2 separate regions of the Homo sapiens genome follow, and region 1 is linked to region 2. The links come from fine-mapping of genetic effects on gene expression. Tissue or cell type: blood mononuclear cells. Region 2 holds a variant in brackets; the other region holds the start of a gene. All regions are shown on one strand. Distances are from middle to middle.

Region 1 (2,687 bases), 120 kb before region 2:
ATAGCCTCTGCATTATAGAGTTATTGTATGGCTTAAATGAGCTAATACATGTAAGGGCTTATAACAGTGCCTAGCACCTGGTATAAACACTCTATAAATGTTAGCTATTGTTATTTGCCAGGAGTGAATCAAATATAAGAAGAGTGTTTGTATAAGATTACCTTTAAATTCCCTGCCAATCCTGAGGTTCTATGTTTCTATATCATTCCAGTCCCTTAGCATTCCTATTCAGTAGGGAGGGGGCAGCATTATCCACATTTTACAAACAGTAAAATTGAGCCATAGAGAAGCAAAATGTCCAGTAAGCAAGTGGCAGTCTGAAACCAGGACTCAGATTTTTAGATGTAAGTATTAGGACTCTTTCCGGGAGGCTGTGTGGCTGTACATTTAAAAGAGAATGTTAGATATCCCTTATGAGCCTATGAGCAGTGACCCCTTGATGCCCCTTCTCTGCCAAGGTTCTCCATAAATGTGCATCAAGGTCACTTCTGTCTCTACTTCTGAGATGATCTCAGGCCATATCTTTTCAGATATTTTTCTTACTAGCTTTACAAAAAAGCTATATTGTGGAGTTGGATGAAGGGCCAGCTCCCTGTATCCTCTGCCTCTTTAGGCATTCCCATGCCTGGGTTGTGCTACGTATACACATACTTCACCTGGCTGCAGACGCTGACTTTTTGGAGGGTTCCTTCTGCTGAGCCCGGACCTCAAACCACTTGAGAACCCCACAACTGACCTTATTCCAAAACATTCTATCCCAACCCATTCCACCCTGGATTTCTCCTTCAATCATGGGCAAAGGATCTGCAAAAGCTTCCATCCTCTCCCTTTCTCTTCTTATCTGGGTTGGTCAGAGGGAAGCCTCTATCTTCTTCAGGACCCTGCCTATGCAGAGGCAGCTCCAAGAGTTGGGTGCGGGGAGTATTTCTGTGCCTGAATCTGGACTGTTCAAGAGGATTTAGGATGCTTTTCTTTTCTGTCCACTAGGGGGCTGCTTGTAGGGGGATGGAAAAAACGGAGGCTTAAAAAAATCATGCTGCTGAAATTTCAGCAAGAGGGGAAAAGAGAGAGCGCGTGAGAGAGAGAGAGAGAGAGAGAGAGAGAGAGAGAGAGAGAGAGAGACAGCAAAGCAGTCCCAGGCTTCCTCCTCTCTTTCACGTCAGAGGCAGGAACCGACTGTGCTAAGGCTGTTGGCTCAACACCCAGAGGAGACGGGCAGACCCAGGGAGAGTGAGAGAAGGGGGTCCTCTCTGACCCAAGGAATTACCACTAGTGGAGTGAAGCCACCTGACTTTTTGATCTTATTTTGGTTGCCTCCTCATTCTCCTTCCACCCGTAGCCCTGACAGCTTGGGTTTCATTTCTTTCGTGGAGCCTTGTCTCTTCCTCCCAGAATAGGAGGAAGGGAAGAGAAGGGAAAGAGGAGGGCTCTCTAGGTGAGCGCATCAGCTGGCTCCAGCCTGAGCAAGCAAGAATTTTCTTCCCAGGAAGCTCCTCTCGCTCCCCGGCCGCCCACCCCCAGCCTGGGTAAGTCCAGAGCACTCGCTCCTTTGATTTTCTGGCTAACGTGATTTCAGCACCAAGGAGAGCTATGAGATGCATTTTGGTTCCTGTGTATCTGTGTGTTCTGCAAGGCATTTGGCACTAGGGTTACATCTATTTCTCTGCTGCCAGTAGAGTCGGGTTCTGCGTAGGGAAAAGAAAGGCGCAAAACTATGTTTACCGAATTAAAGGGGGATTGGACTCTGGCCTTGCGGGTGTGTGTGTGTGTGTGTGTGTGTGTGTGTGTACTGTTGCATAAGACAGGTGAGGTCTGAGCTAAATTGCGGGTGGTTTCTGCGTGTCTCCATGTAAGGCTGTTCTTTTTGTCTGTAGATAAGCGAGATGGTTTGGGGAATTAGTCGTGCACCTTCTTTAACTCTCTCCCGACAAGCCATCCATGGTGGGAAAGAGTTGCAAAGGAAGCCTGGGGGGTTGGGAGTGGAGGTAGAGTTAAAAGTTACGCACCTCTGAGAGAGCTTTAAAGAGGTGCTTTGTAAAATGTCAGTTTCCTAGTATTCTCTGGGCTCTTGCTGTGGAGAGAGCCCAACCTGACCTTTTACTTTCTCTTCTGGTGTGAACCCATGGTAAGTGGGCAGGTGCAACAGGTGAAGCTCAGGCTGGGGCGGCTTTGGGGGGTTGAGGTCCCTTCTGACTTCATGGTGGTAGGAAAGTGCTAGTGTCTTGAGCTTTGCAGAGACTGGCTGGTGTGGGTTATATTACATTTGCAAGGAGGCAGGAGGTACCCTCCACTTTTATGCCATCTTTGGCTATGGGTGGTTGGAAAGAAGACAAAGTCTGTTCTGCCCTGTTTTCTGGGGCATTTGGCAGTGAAAAACAACTAAGAATAAAGGTTTGTCTCTATATGTCTAGGGTGAGCAGAAACAAAATTAGACTTGTCCCAGACTCAGGAGGGCTTGAAGTGGTACTCTGTTCTCCTCCAGCACTGAGAGGCTCTGCAAACAGGAGCTCATTATTACTTCTTTCTTCACTGCTGCTACTTTTTGCAAGGTATTACTCTGTCTCTCCTGCTTTCTGCCTCTCTGAAGTATGTTCAGTCAATTCCCTGCATCTGCTTTGGTATTGTCTTGGAGACACTATAGGCCTGCCCCTGCCCCATTCAGTCCTGGCCACACCTACCTGGTTGAG
Region 2 (2,687 bases):
AATGTGCAGGTTTGTTACATATGTATACATGTGCCATGCTGGTGTGCTGCACCCATTAACTCGTCATTTAGCATTAGGTATATCTCCTAAAAGGTGCCACTCTTTACCCCTTCCCCATAGGTCCCTTTAAGTGGCCTTCAAGCAAAGTACTATCTAAGCCACAGATTTCAGAGATCCTAAAAAGGCTCTAGGAACCTGTAGGAGAGGTTCCCTCCACACCAAATCACAGCTCTGGGACTTGATACCCTGGGGAGAAAGATAAACCCTGAAAACACATTTTCCTTGCTGCCTTATGGCAACATTTCTCAGAGTGTGGTCTGCAGACAATGGCATCAGAATCACCTGGAATGCTGGTAAAGAGCATATTTTTAGTTCCCTGCCCAGAATTACTAAATCAGAATCTCTGCCATGGCTTCCAAGGAAATAAGCTTTTTCACCTGCCTTCTGTGAGATTCTAAGGCACAGTTTGAGAGCCACTGGCTATAATTTGGAGGTGTTTCTCCCAGTGGTCCTGGCTCATTCTGACTATCGTGGATTGGGGCAGCTGAGACTGCTGGCTTCTTCGGCTTTTACAGACCTCTCATTACTCTCAGTGGCTATTATGGTAAAGGCCAAAGTCTTCTTAGAAATTTGCAGCTTCCTCCAAGACAGCTCTCTTGAGCTCTCTCCAATAGGAAAAGTTGTGTTTCCAAAGAACACATCTGATTGTGTAAAAACGTTAGGAGAGCCTCAGATTAACTTGAAAGTAGAACTGATCTTAGTCATTTTGGGGGTGGGGTGGGTAAGGATGGGGGATGGCAATTATGATGATCATTACAATTAGAGCTATAATTTATTGATGGCCTATCAAGTTCTAAGCCTGGTGCAAACTACTCGTAATTTCATTTAATCTTTACAATGTTCCGATATGATGAGTATCATTATGCCATTTTTACCAGATGAGAAATTTGTGGTTCAAAATCACATAACTAGTAACTGATATAATAATAGAATTTGAACTCCGTCTTTCTGAAGCTAGTAACTCCTTTTCAAGTATATGGAAATTTATAAAGCTAAAGCCCATCCCCATCCACTGTTCTGTTTTGATGTTTACACCAATGCTGTGAGGCAGACAGAACAAGTTTTATAAATGAGAACAAGTTTTATAAACTCTGATCTAAGGATCAGAGTTTTTCATCCCAGCTTGTGCACTGGTAAGAAACAGTCAAAGTTTGAACAACACAGGGCATTTACTCTCAATCCAGGGCTTTTTATTCCATGAGATTCTGCTTTGTCCTCTTGCCATGTCAAT[C/T]ACAAGTTATATGCCCAAGAGGCAGCAATACTGTTAGTTTAGATTAACAAGTGTATGAGTTTGGTGGGGTTGGCACAGCAAATTACTTTGTGGCTTAAAACAAGACAATTTTATGTTCTCAGAGTTCTGGAGGCCAGAAGTCCAAAATCAAGGTGATAACAGGATCTAGGTTCCTCTGAAGGATCTAGGGGAAAAATCTTTTCTTGCTCTTCCAGCTTCTGGGGGCTCCAGGCATTCCTTGGCTTGTGGTGACATCACTGCAATCTTAACTTCTGTCATGGCCTTCACCTCTGTGTTTTTCTTCTCTTCTGCCTTTTATCACTTGTCATTAGATTGAGGCTTCACCTGGATAATCCTGCATGATTTCATCTCAAGATCCTTAACTTAATTACATCTGCAAAGACCCTTTTCTAAACAAGGTCACATTCACAAGTTCTGAGGGTTAAAACATAGACATATCTTCTGGGGCCCAGCATTGAATCTACCACAATAGGTAACTAGTATTTTAAGACACAAATATAAATAAGACATATGTATAAATACACAAAGCTCATTAGAAAACATATACGGTTTATTTCAATTTCTCTCTCAGTTGCTTTCTTCTCAATTACTAACTGAAGGCTGCCATGAAGAATGGTTTTTGTTGAGAATTAGGGACAGGGAGGGATTGTTTTAGAGCAAAAGGGTATTGAGGTTAGGGCAACCCAAGAAGGTAGCTATGAAATGCAAGAGCCCACCCAGAAGGCAGAAGAGAGAGGATAGCAGCTCAGCACTGAGGGAGCAGCAGAAAGAGAGCTGGAGGTGGGTGATATGGTTCTGGAAGCAGCTACTTCACAGTCATGACCTGCTTGGGTGAGATTTTAATGACCTTTGCACGATCATAGTTATCAAAACCTACTTCTGGATTGGGGAATGGTAGAAGAGAGGGAAGACGAACAGGAATGTATTAGTGCATTTTCACACTGCTGATAAAGACATACCCGAGACCGGGCAATTTACAAAAGGAAGAGGTTTAATTGGACTTACAGTTCCACATGGCTGGAGAATGTCTCAGAATCATGGTGAAGGGTGAAAGGCACTTCTTACATGGCAGTGGCAAGAGAGAATGAGGAAGAAGCAAAAGTGGAAACCCCTGATAAGCCCATCAGACCTCGTGAAACTTATTCACTATCATGAGAATAGCACAGGAAAGACAGGCCCCCATGATTCAATTACCTCCCCCCCGGGTCCCTCCCACAACACTTGGGAATTCTGGGAGATACAATTCAAGTTGAGATTTGGGTGGGGTCAGAGCCAAGCCATATCCAGGAGCATCTTGTCCTTGTTTGGTTTGATATCATTTCAGCCTGTGGGGAGATGTGCAGATGGCTGGGGGTAGGAGGGGATGGGCTAGAAG

What was found. PIP is the estimated chance that this variant, and not a neighbour inherited with it, causes the effect.
Region 1: it holds the start of TNR, and the variant in region 2 is fine-mapped to the expression of TNR in blood mononuclear cells (TOPMed, PIP above 0.99).

Annotation. Positions count from the first base shown.
Region 1 is chr1:175,742,065-175,744,751 of GRCh38, reverse strand. TNR (tenascin R) reads left to right here and starts at 1,157. Exons shown (of 23, transcript NM_003285.3): 1 at 1,157-1,526.
Region 2 is chr1:175,625,796-175,628,482 of GRCh38, reverse strand. All of the region lies in intron 1 of TNR (tenascin R), which reads left to right. Among named protein-coding and RNA genes, the nearest start is that of TNR, 120 kb to the left of the region's middle. The variant C/T (reference allele first, on the strand shown) is at 1,292.